2 separate regions of the Homo sapiens genome follow, and region 2 is linked to region 1. A link means that fine-mapping ties the variant in region 1 to the expression of a gene that starts in the linked region. Tissue or cell type: aorta. Region 1 holds a variant in brackets; the other region holds the start of a gene. All regions are shown on one strand. Distances are between the middles of the regions.

The links. PIP is the estimated chance that this variant, and not a neighbour inherited with it, causes the effect.
Region 2: it holds the start of ADAM23, and the variant in region 1 is fine-mapped to the expression of ADAM23 in aorta (GTEx, PIP above 0.99).

Annotation. Positions count from the first base shown.
Region 1 is chr2:206,544,606-206,552,714 of GRCh38, forward strand. It overlaps ADAM23 (ADAM metallopeptidase domain 23), which reads left to right. Exons shown (of 26, transcript NM_003812.4): 7 at 2,824-2,896; 8 at 3,676-3,749; 9 at 5,490-5,555. Among named protein-coding and RNA genes, the nearest start is that of FAM237A, 94 kb to the right of the region's middle. The variant G/A (reference allele first, on the strand shown) is at 4,296.
Region 2 is chr2:206,440,244-206,448,352 of GRCh38, forward strand. It overlaps ADAM23 (ADAM metallopeptidase domain 23), which reads left to right and starts at 3,289. Exons shown (of 26, transcript NM_003812.4): 1 at 3,289-3,837; 2 at 5,064-5,281. The coding sequence starts at 3,624. RefSeq lists a silencer at 3,734-3,863.

The DNA of each region.
Region 1 (8,109 bases):
GAGTTAAATTTTTTTTTTTTTTTTTTTGAGATAGTCTCGCTCTTTCGCCTAGGCTGGAGTGCAGTGGCACTATCTTGGCTCACTGCAAGCTCCGCCTGCTGGGTTCACGCCATTCTCCTGCCTCAGCCTCCCAAGTAGCTGGGACTACAGGTGCCCGCCACCGCACCCAGCTAATTTTTTGTATTTTTAGTAGAGACGGGATTTCACCGTGTTAGCCAGGATGGAGTTAAATTTTTTATACATACACAGTTCCGGGAAGTCCACCAAGAGAAGACAAGTGGTGAATGAAGCACTTAAGGAAATTAGAGAGCTGGAAGAACATTCTAGAAGATGAGCAAATACAAAGGCCTTGAGGCAGGAGTGTGCCTAGGGTGTTCGAGGAGCTTTGAGGAACCTGACAGGGTTGGAGAGGAGTGAACAAGGGGAAGAATGGGAGGAGATTAAGGCACTGAGAGGTAACAGTACAGAAGTCAGATCAGTGAAAAGAACTGTAGCGGGAAAATAATATTTTGTGAGTGATAGAGTTAGATTATTGCAGTTATTTGATGGGGAACAGAAAACATTTTTTATCTTTAGGGATTTCAAATTTAGATAAAATTGGGCTGGGCGTGGTAGCTCACGCCTATAATCCTAGCACTTTGGGAGGCTGAGGTGCGCAGATCACGAGGTCAGGAGTTTGAGACCAGCCCAGCCAATATGGTGAAACCCTGTCTCCACTAAAAATACAAAAATTAGCTGGGCGTGGTGACGGGAGCCTGTAATCCCAGCTAGTGGGGAGGCTGAGGCAGAAGAATCGCTTGAACCTGGGAGGCAGAGGTTACAGCGAGCCAAGATTGCACCTTTGCACTCCAGCCTGGGCGACAGAGCGAGACTCCATCTCAATAAATAAATTAATTAATTAATTAATTTTGAAACAGCTAACAGTTAGATAGGCTACTGATAATAAAAGCTGAACAGACAAACTTTTATTGTCTTGGTTATGGCGATGTATGTATGAATATGGGGTAAATTTCAAAGTTGATGCAGAAAAGTTTTAAAGGGTTGGTGTTTGAATAAACCTCTGTCATTTTCAACTAGTAACTATAAAAATTATCAGGTAATGAAGACAGCCCACTTAGATAAAGACATTTTGATTAAGTAAAATGTTATTTATCTCACTCCAGTAAGGAAAGATAATCTGTGTACAGCAAAATTATTCGACTCATTCAGCAAAAACTCTGACTTTGATTTCTGGCTTTGATTAATGGCCCTGGTACCCTAACAAAATCCACAAAGAACAAAACACAGATTCCCAAATAATAACTATTTAAGCCTTAGAGTTTTTTAAATGTATAAAATGAGATAATTTTTAATGCATTCATAGTAGGGCAATTTTGTAGATTTGATGAATTAATAAATGTAGGTGACAATGTCTATTAAACTGTCATAAGGATTTATAAATATAAACTATTGTTATAATGTTTAAAGCATTGGTTTTGCATTGTTTACTTGTGATCATATTATTCAGGGCCTGATTGTTACATGCAAATTGCCTTCTCTTTGCCTTCCTTCCTGTTGCCTACCTTTTGGTTATGTAATGATTTGTCCTCATCCACACTATGGGTAGAGGAAAGGAATAGTGCTTTAAACTTTAGTCGATTTTTTAAATTGTGTTGCTGATCCCATTGTTAATTTCATTACTATCTTTTCACCTTTTACCAGAATTTAGAGCTTACTGTAATTAATTTTAGATATTTTGATGTTTGTTGTTAGATATTATTGATTTTAGTATGCTTTGCGATAAGTCAAGTAATACGCATGGGATATTTCTAATGAGAATTCATGTTATCTCTCAAGTAATAAATGAATAGCAAAACTGTTATAAGTTTTATGTAACCTATTAAGAAGTTTCTTTTTTATAACTTTTTCTGATTATAAAACTAATATAGGAAATTTGGAAAAGCAAAACAAATACTTAAATAGTAATTTTCCATTATCCTGTCCCCCAAAGATAACTTCTTGTCATGTTTCAGAATATGTTCTTCCAGTTTTCAATGATATAGTCCCATATATTTTTAAAAATAGATTGGATCATTATTTTATAAGATAATTTTAAGACAATGATGTATCTCCCTGAGCCTCAATATCTTTATTTGTAAAATAGGGATAAACCATGCACTATATGGCGTCTTTGTCAGGACTAAATTAAATAATGTGTACATTAACAGTACCTGATACATACTATGCACTCAGTAATGGAAGCTAATAGGAATAAGAATAATGGTAATAGACATTCCTAAAAGCATAATTTCTAGGGCAAAAAATGTAAATGTTTTCACGTTTGTTGATATACCTTACTAAATTTCTCTCTCAAACTATGCTACCAATTTCCTCTTGCCAGCAAGGTGTGAGAGTGCTTTTGGCCTTACAATGGTAATTAACTATGGATATCGTAATTTTTAAAACTTCATCAGTTTTATGGCAAAAGTTGGTGCTTCATTAAAAAAAATGCATGTTGAAGGAATATGAAAGCATTCGGCATGTTTTTACATGTTTATTGACTTTTTGTGTTTCTTGTGAATTTCCCATTTATAGCTTTAAAGAAAGCTAAGATTTAAGAGTAACCAGTAACACTATGTTTTTATCTAAACTGGGGCAATTAGATGATACTCTTTTATTTAAAATTAAGATTTCAATAAGACATACTTTTCACTTTTGATAGCTAAAAAACTGACATATAAATATTCCCATTTTAGGAAGGACATTAGAGAAAGTTCCAACACTGTTTCATAGAGGCTTGTTCACATCTTGCTTTCTAAATTGCCTACAATTGTTTTGTTTCAGAAAAGCACAGGTCGACCACATATAATCCAGAAAACCTTGGCAGGACAGTATTCTAAGCAAATGAAGAATCTCAGTAAGTTTTAACTAAAAATAGCGATTATATTTTATGTAGTATGAGCTTTTATCTGGTGGAGCTCAGTAGATATGCAGGCTTGTTGGAAGTGGAATTGGTCTGATATCAGGGGTGAACATCGTGGATCAGCACTGGAATGAGTGGTGGCTCTTGTGTAAAGAGGCATGGAGAGTCATTTCCAGTGCAGACTAAAACATGAAGACTTTGAGTAAAGCTGCCTTGGGAACCAGAAAGTGTGGTCAAATTTAGTACAGTGATTTACAGTGAGGTTCATCCTGAAATCTTCCTGGCAGTTTGCTGCTCTTGAGCCAGCTTGGATTGCCTCCCTCTCATGCTCTGCTCCAGACACATCTTAAGTGTGCTAATGTTGGAAGAAGCTTCTTTTTGATTGTTGGGGCATGTGATTTTATTTCTGTATATTACTGCTAAAAGTCTTTAATAATTTATGCAAAAGCTAATGCCATACATTATTTTGAATGCTAAAATGAATTAGACATAGTAGAACTCTGTCAAATTTTCAGATATTGTCAAGTGGTTTTATATCAAATATGCATCTTCTAATGAATCTTGAACATTATGTTTTCTTGATGTTTGGGACAAAATTACATTTGAACTATCTTTGTGGTCATGAGAGTGTGAAATATATAATGATCAGTGTGCTTTTTTTCACCTTAGTTTGACATATATTATCAGTGCCACTGTTTCTTCATGTAATATTTTAAAACATACTCCCATTGAAATAAGCATAAAATTTTGATACTAATTTTTCCTTTCTGCAGCTATGGAAAGAGGTGACCAGTGGCCCTTTCTCTCTGAATTACAGTGGTTGAAAAGAAGGAAGAGAGCAGTGAATGTGAGTGTGGCATTGAGCCTTGGGTGGGCCTATTTTACTCAATGAAGTCATGTGCCTATCACCCCACATTATCTAAGTGTACCTAAAACAGTTCAGATTTTGGGGACTGTTGTTTAAAAATGAAAACAATAAACAAAAAACCCTATGATTTGAGCCTTAACACACTGCTTTTTATTGATCTCTTTCTGTTAGTGATTCAAACTGATTACGGTAGTCTCTGAACCCTGACGTCATCTAAAGAACGTGTTGTTTTAGCTCTGTTTTCTACGTGTTTTCTGATGATAATTGCAGTGCGTTTTATTTTCTATTTAAAGTACAGCAGACTTTTCTTTCTATATGGCTTATATAGTGTCATATAAAACATTTCTGTTAATAAAAAATCTAGAGAGAGGAGTTAGGTTTTGAAATGTTGGCTAATCATACATATTTATATTACTTTCAGATTAAAAACTCTGTTACACCAAACTTTAAAGCTGTATGTGTTTTTCAGAACACAATGAATTTATTTGACTATTAGCAATATAACAGTTTCTAAATAAAAATCAT[G/A]TAATTGTATAATCAACTACTGTTATATACTTCACATGTATTGATAAACGTATAGGGGCTTTGTAATTGAAATTATGTTTCTGGTCTTTTCATAATAGGCTAGAAAGCTGTAATGATGGGGACTGTTTAGTAATTACATGGTGAATGCTATGTAACTGAGAATTAATTCCACAGCTTATACATTACATGGTAATTTACTAGATAACTTAATGAGTAACTATAGTAGAAATTGCACATTTTAGATAATGTTTTGCTGAGTGTATTTTTTTTGTGAAAAAAATAGACCACCAGCCATCAAAAACTTAGTTCCAGTTTAAATTTTCCTCCCTTTTATGAAACTCTTATGATAATTATGGATACATTTATTATATATTATATAAATTATTATTAGATCTCTTTTAGCTCATTCATAAAGATGTGGTTGGTAATAATATGTTTTACAATGGCTGCTGTTCTTTCCCTACAGTCCACCTCATCAAATATAAAGTGATCAATGACTATGTACATAAAGAAAAAAGAGCCACTATTATAATTTTCCAACTATGAAAAAGAAATAAAAGTCCAAATGAAGGCTAAAATACTTACTCTTAAAGAATTATCTAGTTAATTTAGAAGACTTTAGACTGTAATAATTGCCAATATTTTTTCCTTTGAGAAATTGAGCAGTTAAGAATTAGCATATTATTTTTAGAATTTCACTCGAGTGAGTTAATGTTTCTATTTAACTACATTGATATCTGTATCAGATATATCTGGAAGTAATTATAACTTATGCTATTCTTATTAAATGAGTTTTACATAGATTTTCATTGACGTTTTAAGTAAATATGAATATTTTATCACATTTTAATGTGAAATTGAGATTTATTTATTTTAACATAATTATGCTATAATTTTTCTCTAGAATATTTTTACATATAAAAACCATATACAACAACATGGACTGTTTTCTATGTTGATAAGTAAGTACCTTAATGATAATAAAATACAGTTATTTTCTAAATACTTGAATATGTACCCATATTTTATGATCACTTTTTAAAATTTGCCTGACCAACTTTCTTCTAAGGTGTTTATAAAGTAGGCAGCAGAGAGTTGTTCTGAAATTCAAAGTCTTATCTACAACTTAACAGTGAGCACTAGAGAGATTTTATGTCAATCACTATTCTGACCATATATTTTTATTTTCCGTAGCCATCACGTGGTATATTTGAAGAAATGAAATATTTGGAACTTATGATTGTTAATGATCACAAAACGGTAAGAATATAGAGTCAGTGGGTTTTAGAACAGATAGCTTACTTAAGAAAGAATACATTTTACTTTATAGTTAATCATTATTTTTTACTTATTAACCCCAAGATATTCAGACATATTAAGTGACTTGATTTATTTGTCGGTGTTTGGAGACTCTGAGTTTTATAGAATTTTCACAACTCTAAACTTTCCTTACATTTAATAATTATAATTAATAGATTTAGCTATCTGGCATCTTTTGTCTTCATTTAAAATTCTTATTCTCTACTTTTCTTCATCTATGTATTTGGTCACTGCTTTCTAATTTTATTCCGTGCTTTTGTCCTGCTAATATGTTATTTTTTCTTACTAGTTAATTATGCTTATGGTAGATACAATTGTAGGAGGCAAACATATAAAATAAAGGTTTATCTAAAGTGAATATCTTTGATGACTTATCGTCTTTTTTTTTTTTTTTTTTGTGAGACGGAGTCTCGCTCTGTCGCCCAGCCTGGAGTACAGTGGCGCGATCTCGGCTCACTGCAAGCTCCGCCTCCCGGGTTCACGCTATTCTCCTGCCTCAGCCTCCCGAGTAGCTGGGACTACAGGCGCCCGCCACTACGCCCGGCTAATTTTTTGTATTTTTAGTAGAGACGGGGTTTCACCGCCTTAGCGAGGATGGTCTCGATCTCCTGACCTCGTGATCCGCCTGCCTCGGCCTCCCAAAGTGCTGGGATTACAGGCGTGAGCCACCGCGCCCGGCGACTTATCGTCTTTAAATATTGGAAAGATGAATAATCTCGTGTTAACTTCTGTGGCAGTAAAATGTGATTGAATATGTCATTTCAGTAACACTTAAAAGATATATGAAAAACATTCATTGTTCCTCATTTTCCCCTCTTGAAGATACAATAGAAACTCCGTTAACTATACTTAACCGTTTCCTTTATAAAATTACTTGCCTGAAGCCCAGAAGAGTCTTGGTCAGTAGGCTATATACTAGTACACCCAATACTAGTGGTGTGCTGGTAAATTTTAATACCTAGCTCTCTTGATTTATAATGTTTGCTGATATCTGTGGTGTAAATATTGCCACCATAGCTGATTTCAAGCTATCAAAGTGAGATCACTGATGAGGAGTTAGGAGAGGATGTATCTAGTTGGCTCTCGGGATCTGATGGGAGCTGGCTCCAGCAACCACTGCCACACTCCCCAGACTGTTTAGGCCAATTGTAATCTCTGTTGTAGTTATGTGATTGAACTTTAAAAGTTGTAAACTCTAAGGCAAAAAGTACTTGTTTTATCAAAACAAAGTTGCACTTCTGAAAAGACTTTATATAGATGAGAATCTTTTAAAAAATGCATAGAAATCAGGTATTGGTGACAAACTTATGAAAGATTGGAACAAAAATTGAAATTGCTTTGGAATTATCTTTAAGTCTTTGTTTTACTTTAAGGAAACCAAAATTAGATTAGTACATGGTATGATAAGGTTGTGCTTCATGCTAAAATGATGTGAAATTCTAATTAGCTGGCCCTACTCAGAGAATGCCTTGAAACTAGAAATTTAAAAAAATAGTGACTTAATTTATATTTAAACTTTTAAGTTTCTACTTTAATGGATGTTTTCCATTAACTATCAGTTTAATTGTGTTGAATATCAATAGAATACCTCTTACTTTTGTATACACATTTATTTTCTGTTCCAGTTGCCTTTAAATATATTGCTTGAGATGTTAGTAAGAAGCAAAATTTATCAGAACACATATAATTTAAGAGAGGTCCTTTTTGGTGGAAAGGAAAGCCAGATGTGTAGGCAGTCATTTTAGACAGTAAAGGCTAAAATATGAGTTTCTGAAGGACTTTAATTTGCTTGAAACCCCAAGATAGTTTTTTTATCTGAATTATTTTTGTTGATTGGAACATTGAGATTTTTTTTCCCAGCTGATTCTCAATCTTGAGCATTGTGGCATGTTGTGAAATTATGGCTTTTGAAGCCTAAGCTTTTTTCAACATCCATTATATAAATACTTTTAGAGTAGTAGAAATAATAATTAAGATATATTCAATGTCTTTGAATGCACAAAGTGCATTCTCAAATAGCTGTTAATCTATAGAATCTGTTCTCAAACCTTTACTTGCAATTCCAAATCTCTTGTTCTACCATAATATATCAGGAAAGTACATGAAGCTATCAATCAAAAGAGCAAATCTCAGTAACTGTGCAAAATAGGAAACAGTTACTACTAAGTGTTAATTACAATTAAACAGTTATAGTTTTTTGGTAATTGTTAAAACAGCATATTTTTTGAATTTATTTTTTAACCCTTCTCAATGGTAAACATTTAAATAACCTTATTCTTATGAATAATAAAATAGCATACTTCTTAAAATATTATTTTATATGTAGAAAATTTCTACACACCATGTCACATGTTCTGTGATAGAGTTCCTTATTTAGGCTATCAAATCTTTTAAGGGTAAATTTTAATAATTCATTTTATTATTGTTGTTAGTATTATTATTATTATTGTTATTATTTTGAGATAGGTTCTCACTCTGTCACCCAGGCTGGAGT
Region 2 (8,109 bases), 100 kb before region 1:
CCTCTCTTCTGTCATCCCCTTCTTCTACTTTCTCCCCTAGCATCTCAGCCCTCTTGAGGCCAAGGCCTGCTACATCTAATATTTCTATTTCTGTCCTTTGCTTGCTCCTGTCCAGACCCAGTCTTCTCACTGGTTGCAAAGTGGGTCCAGTTCTACCACTGGAAACAGATTTTGGCAAATAGAGACCTTCTGATCTCCTCCCTCACCAGACCAATGGACCATTTTTGTGAACAGTATGACGACCCTTCCTGGGTATTGCTCACATGCACCCCTCATGGTGCTTACCTAGGGTCCATATTGCCTGGTGTAATTTCCTTCCCATGGACCTTCTGGCCACCTGCCTTCACCTACGACTGCAGCATTTCTCCATGTCTGCCACTGTGACTAGATCACTCCAGTGATCCTCTGATGGCCTTAGGATCCAACACACATTGGTAACCAGGGCCATTATAGCACTCAAGCTTCTGGTATATTTCTTTATTCCAGTCCATCTTGCTGAATCCCTCTGTTTCCTACCTGTGAGTGCCCCTCTATGAATGCTGATTTGATTCCAGGTACTATACTAGGCTGTGGAGTCAGAGATGACCAAGATACAGCCTTGCTCTCAGTATTTTTTGATGGAAGAATGATGATATGCACATACACGAATACAGAGCAAAGCAGTAGGTGGCAAGTGATTAAGCAAGTCACTAAATCTTATGAAAGCACAGAGGGGAATATTTAGAAGTAAACTCTATAAAAATAAAAATTCTGAACTACCTAATAAGAATATTACTAACTCTACCAAGTTGACCAATTAAATTATTTAATCAGTTAATATTTGATTCTGTTTTTAACCTTCCCTTAAATATATGGCTTAAAGACTAAACTTCCAGTAAATTTTTTCTAAGTAATGTACTCTTTCTCTGACTCATTATTTCATTTATTGATATCTTATTTTGACTCTAGCAATGTCTGTAACCATTAAAGTTCTGTAAATAAATGCAGTCTTTTGACTATAGTACATAAGACAACATCCCTCTTTGTAAATACCCCAACCCCTTATTAGAAACTATATTGAGGCCAGGTGCGGTGGATCACGCCTGTAATCCCAGCACTTTGGGAAGCTGAGGTGGGTGGATCACCTGAGGTCAGGAGTTTGAGAACAGCCTGGCCAACATGGTGAAACCCCGTCTCTACTAAAACTACAAAAATTAGCCGGGTGTAGTGGCACGTGCCTGTAATCCCAGCTAATCCCAGCTACTTGGGAGGCTGAGGCAGGAGAATCGCTTGAACCTGGGAGGCAGAGGTTGCAGTGAGCTGAGATCGCACTACTGCATTCCAGCCTGGGTGACACAGCAAGACACCATCTCAAAAAAAAAAAAAAAAAAAGAAAAAAAGAAACTATATTGAATCCTCATTCCATACCCCAAGTGCATGAAATGATGTGTTGTAACTGGTGGGTGGGTTTGGTCAGTCCAGGTTGGCTGATAGGTTTATTTATCAGAACAGACTTTAAGAGGTTGTCACTGAATTGCAAGAGATGCCTTTCAAGTAACTTGCATCTGGGTGCTTTGCACCTTTCATTTCCCTCTCCCTTCTCATTGCTTGTACATCTCCTTTCTGGCTTGCTTTCTCTCAGGCCCTTTTTCAGGATGCATATTGTGTCAAATATAAATTTGGAAAACCTAGCCAGAGAATACTTGACTTGAGGGAGACAACCCTAAGAACATTGACCTGCAGTGGGCACTCCGGTGGGGCTAGAGTGTTCACTAGCCTGCCCCAAGTGTGACTTCTGCTTGTGTGTATCACCCATTTCTTTATTCATTTAGTACATATTTTCCAAGCGATTTCTCTGTGCCTCAGACACTGTGTGAGGTCCTAGGGACACAATGGTGTGCAGAAGGGAAAACTGTTGTTGCCCTCACATGGGGGAGGTAGCAACAATTACAAATTTACAGGAATAAATATGTGATAATAATATCCTAGCTCAACATAGAAAGGAAGTTATCTCAGTATTTACCTAACAGTTTTGTAATGTGTGTGTGCGCGCGCGTATATGTCTTCTTCTTTTCTCTTTGTTAAGTGTGAGTGGAGAAGATGATGGCTAACACTGAGTTCTGTCATGGCCATGGCACTTTTATACCCACATTCTTTCTTTTAATCATGGAATTCTCCACCCCAGCCCTCACCCCGTGGATGTCGGAGTAAGACAACATTGTTATCACTCAGATTGTCATTGGGAGGGTGAATAAATGAATGCTTGCATTATGAGAGTTTGGGGGCAGAAATATGCCACAGACTCTTATCTGAAGCCATCAGATTTAGTGGCTGCGAACCCACCGAAGTCAGGGATTTACATTTTTTACAGCAACGAGAGAAAACTTCCCCTTTCCTCTGCAGAAGTCAGGACTGGATCTCAAAAATAGAAATGTGTCCTCCTAAATGTGTGCCCATCCCCGTGGTTGACAAACAACGGATTTCCCAAGATAGCTGCCACACACTTGGTTTCTAATCTCTGTATTGCTTCCCCGCCAGAATGTCGAAGTCCTTCCCGAATATGCCCAGTCATACTTTCTGAACTTTTGAGCAAACACCGTCCGGCTTCTTGTGCTTTCCTCAAAGACCCCAGGCACCGGCAGGGAGGACACAGGCCGGGGCAGAGCGCCCCTGCGCGGGGGATTCCTGCCACTCCGCGCCAGCCTGCGGCGCAAACGCTCTTCTCAGCCGCAGTCCCACCCGCTGCTGGCAATCTGAATGAGGAGCCGCGCTATTTTTACCTCCCCGGCTGCAATCCTTTATATTTACATGCAGGAAGCAAATATATAAGGGATTAAGAAGGAGATGCGTGGCCTTAGTTTATCCAGAGCAGGAAGAGGTTGGAATAGGAGAGGGTATGTGAAGTCTGGGGTGGTGGAAAAGGCAGGTGGACTTCGGCTGGTTGTTTTCTCCCGATCATCCCTGTCTCTGGCCTGGAAACCCCCGTACTCTCTTTCTTCTGGCTTATCCGTGACTGCCGGCTCCCCCTCCACCGCCCCCATCTTTTGAGGTACCACCCGTCACCTCCGATGCTGCTTGGGCTGCTGCATCACTCTGCTGCTTTACCCCCTTCCCCGCCCCCCAACAAAGCATGCGCAGTGCGTTCCGGGCCAGGCAACAGCAGCAGCACAGCATCCAGCAACAGCATCAGCACCCGAAGCCCCGCTCGGGCGCGCTCTCGGGGGGCGGGGCGCACGCCCGCTCCGCGCGTCCCCGCGCCGCTCGCTCCCGCGCGTCCCCGCGCCGCTCGCTCCCGCGCGCCGCCTCAGCATCCTCAGGCCCGGCGGCAGCCCCCGCAGTCGCTGAAGCGGCCGCGCCCGCCGGGGGAGGGAGTAGCCGCTGGGGAGGCTCCAAGTTGGCGGAGCGGCGAGGACCCCTGGACTCCTCTGCGTCCCGCCCCGGGAGTGGCTGCGAGGCTAGGCGAGCCGGGAAAGGGGGCGCCGCCCAGCCCCGAGCCCCGCGCCCCGTGCCCCGAGCCCGGAGCCCCCTGCCCGCCGCGGCACCATGCGCGCCGAGCCGGCGTGACCGGCTCCGCCCGCGGCCGCCCCGCAGCTAGCCCGGCGCTCTCGCCGGCCACACGGAGCGGCGCCCGGGAGCTATGAGCCATGAAGCCGCCCGGCAGCAGCTCGCGGCAGCCGCCCCTGGCGGGCTGCAGCCTTGCCGGCGCTTCCTGCGGCCCCCAACGCGGCCCCGCCGGCTCGGTGCCTGCCAGCGCCCCGGCCCGCACGCCGCCCTGCCGCCTGCTTCTCGTCCTTCTCCTGCTGCCTCCGCTCGCCGCCTCGTCCCGGCCCCGCGCCTGGGGGGCTGCTGCGCCCAGCGGTGGGTATGGCCCCGTGCCCTTTGCGTTGGCTTTCCCGCGGGGCCCTGCAGAGGAAAGCGAAGGGCGCGCGGGTCCGTGTGCTCCGGGCTTGTCCCCGGCTCGGCCTTTCCTTCCCTCCCTGCCTGTCTTTCCACCCTTCTCGTTCCCAAACCCCCATTCATCCCAGTTCACTTTTGGAAGTCCATTTCTGTTGCATTCGCGAAAAACCCATTCCAATTCTTGTTGGTTCCACTGGGAGGTGTTTAGTGGATCCTGGGTCCCTCAGCGATCTCTGTGCAACTTGCGGAGGGGCAACCAGTGGATGGGAAATACAGCGAGGGAGCAAGTTGCTACTTGCGTGGTGGAACCTTAATGTGAATGCGGGGAGGATGTAGTGATAATAGTGGTAATGGGCTGTTTCCTCAAATTTCGTATCCGGCGCATTCAGTGCGGTTGGAATTAAGGTGGGGGAGGCACACTTCGGGGACCAAAGAATTAAGGTGCTGAAGACATACTTCATGCACGACCTTTGGTTCTGATTTCTCAAAGTGCTTGTCATTATAATGAACAATTAATATAATACCATCTTCTATATATTGATGATTGGAAGTCACTGAAAGCAGAAAGCTGGCTTTGTCAGGAAAATAAAAAGAAATTGGGAAGCTGCCAGCATCTGTATCCCTACATGGCAAAGTATGTTTGCTCATCTTAAAGTTAAAAGAGAAGGGAATTGTCCATTTTGTTAAAAGAGTCGATTAATATTCGGTATCCATAAATTCAGTACTCAAGTTATCTTAGGAGCGTTCTTAGCTCTTGGATGGGATGCCACTAGGCAGAGTAGAGTTGTGCTTCTGTGGACTCAGAGAAGGGGTGGAGATCGGGGGCAGGACCCCTGAACATGTTCATTTAATGACTCTTCTTCCCTCAAGTTCATTCTACCCCCCCCCCAACACTTAGAAGTATAGATTTGAGTCTGACTAGAAATGTATATATAAGACATAAATCAAAATAAATAGTGCACAGTTGTATAAGCCTTATTGGCTATTTATTAACTTCTCCAGGCCATTTTATTGTTGAAATAACTTGCTTTACTCTAGCTCTACTTCTTAACTGCTTATAAATAGAAAACTTTGTGTTTGAAATTAAAGGAAAAATGCATTTTAGTGCTTATGTATTTATGGGGTAAATATGTGTGTGTTTGTGTATGTTTGTATTTTCTGCTCCCCCACCCCCCTACCTCCACCAGCTCCGCATTGGAATGAAACTGCAGAAAAAAATTTGGGAGTCCTGGCAGATGAAGACAATACATTGCAACAGAATAGCAGCAGTAATATCAGTTACAGCAATGCAATGCAGAAAGAAATCACACTGCCTTCAAGACTCATATATTACATCAACCAAGACTCGGAAAGCCCTTATCACGTTCTTGACACAAAGGCAAGACACCAGCAAAAACATAATAAGGTAGGCAGGAGGCTGGCTATGCAAAAGTAACTATCATGAAGAGTTTTCCTTTGATTTGATTTTCTGCCAGAATCTGAGTTCACAAATTTTACTGCAGCATTTTATTAAGAAAGCAATTAATATTATGATAGGGGAGAAACTGGAAGGAATTAACTTGGGATCTACTGGGATAAGACTGTTGTTTCTCTTCTCTGACTAAACTGGAACTAGAATTTTCTGATACCTGAAATGATATCCATGTATCTTTCAGGTACATTGGGCACTGAACAGTAGTTAAGTGAATGTGTTTATGATTCTAACTTGTTTCTGTGAGGCTTTATGTAAGGGTGCAGTATTCTGCCTTGATATAAAACTGTCTCCCATGATATAAAAACTGCTTTCAATCTGCACATGCAAGATTGCTTCAAGAAGCTATTTGGCTGCAGTGTCTCCATCAGTCTTTCCACTTAGAAATTGAGTGTTTAAACAGTCTGTTTCTTTAATTGATCAGTAGGAGGAAAAAAAAATTTTCTGTTGTATTTTCAATAGGTAAACAATTTGACATTTAAAAAGATTATGGTGACTAGACACAAATTATTTGCATAATATGAAGACCAATTTTGATTGGCATAATTCTTCAGTACCTACTCTGCATTGATTATGAGCAGTTGCTTTACTTTCAGGTTAGTTCAGAAAGTGGAACTGATATTTACCAAGGTATCAGTAGAAGACAAATGTTTAATATCCAAAGAGTTTAAGGGATCTTTTTCCCTGTGTTACTATTCTTTACTTGAATTAATATTATTTTGAACCCCGAGCAGATTTAAACAATGGATTATCGGTTCTTCTGTTGTTTATCGGGAGCAGAAAATAGAGTCTGTATGTTAAATGTTTCATTTTGATCTGTACTTGTTCAGGTGAGAACAACAGTTAGCAATTAACTGTCTAAACATCTAGAATTTAAGAAAGTATCTGCAGTTTACATCATTGTTTTTTATTAGTTTTCTAAAATATAGGTGAGTGGTAACAGTATTTATCCCCATTTTACAAATGGGGAGCTAGAAATTTAAGGCTTTTGGGTGATTTTCCTATGTTGTAAAGCAGCTAATATAAAATTCAGGTGACCTGAATGTTTAATTTTTACTATTTTTTACAAGTTAGGTCTCTGAGAAAGTGCTTTCTTCACCTTGAATATTACTGGAGAGGTGAACTTTCTTTCACATTATTTTGAAGTGGCTGCTACCCACCGTGAGATAAATGTGTCTCTGTTCTCAGCCAGCCCTTTTCTCCATAAGCTCCTATATAACTTAATGGGGTGACTAATAGGTCATGTCTAACTCATTTGTCTTATTGATAGGAGAAATGGGTGTTGTCTTTAAAGAAGAGAAATCCAAGGCCCTTTTGATAAAATGCATTGAGGCTTTTATAGCTTTCCTTATGAATGAGACCTTTTAGAGTTAAGTGGTTAGTTCTCAAACTCCAGCACCTTTGCTTAGGATGCTGGAGGAAGGAAAAACAGCTGCCTCAAAGCCTGTTTCAAAGAATGCTCAAGCCCTCCTCAGCAGAGACTTGAAATTTCAGTGGCACTTTTTAATAACTCAGATGTTTGAGGCTATGACTAATGCTTGCCTTATAGTTTAACCTTATGTGGCTGTTTTCTTTGGTGGGACGTGGTTTGACTGTAATATACCTGACTTCCGTGATAATAAGGTTTGTTAAACCTGTACCCACCGCTTACCTAGAGGAATAGTTGGGTTTCTTTTATACTGTACTTTGAAAAGAATGTTTCTACAGAAATCGTATTTGAAAGCATTTTTCTTATTAGTTTAACTCTATAAACATTTGTTGCACCTTTCTCATATGCAAGCGGTATGCTAAGTATTCAAAGATAAGAGATAAAGGTTAAAAGGATGAAAAGACATGATCTATCCTCCAGGAGGCAGGAAAATGAGATAAGCAAGATTCTAAAAGTGCTCCCGTACAGGTATAGACAGTGTTGTTGTTTGGTGGGTGCCTTGAAATTACCCTTTGTGTTCTGTGACCTCCCTTTTACTTCTGTTTTTAAGCATCTCTTGAAGTAGTTGATAAAAAGTGTTCCATCTGCTTTCTGCTGTATCTTAGGATGACTTGCTTAATAACAGTGATGAGAGACACTTGCCAGTTCTGCTGCTTTAGAAATGTTTCAGTAAGAAAGTATAGAATTTCATTTCTGCTTTTATGTAAAGAAGTTTTTAATATCTGTGTTATGTACCTTTTTTTCCCTCTCCTGATTTCATTGCACTGAAGCACATTTTAATGAAAGCCTTAGAAATGCTGAATCACTGTGCCTTTCTCATGGATCCCTAGACTGGGGGTAGAGGTGGAAATGGAAATTCCCAAATATAGGTTGCAAGGCCAAGCTCCACATTTATGTCTGAAGAAATTTCGTAAATGTTCAATGTTGATCAATCTTTATTACTTTATAGCTGTGAAAGTTAACATGTTTATTAACTCTTCCAGAATTGGTGAGTGTAAAAGCAGATTGTGCAAACCACCTCTTTGCATCCTAATGTTTCTGAATGCCTTAATGTTTCTTTGTCAAACAATGTTGAAAAATCTTTTTTATCTGCATAGAGTGATGTATAACCAGTTGTCCAAACTGTGCCATTTTTTAAAGTAGAAGTGGGCACTCCTAATAATTATGCCAGGTTAGTAGGCATAAACCAAGGTAGTCTAGAGCAGGCAGGGAGTTTTGACACCTTGGATCCAAATGCTGTATTCCTTGATTTTTGGTGCTTACTCAAATTCAAGATTCTTTAAAGACAATTTTATTTTCTGATGATTTATTATAAATTCTTTCTTGCTAGCTA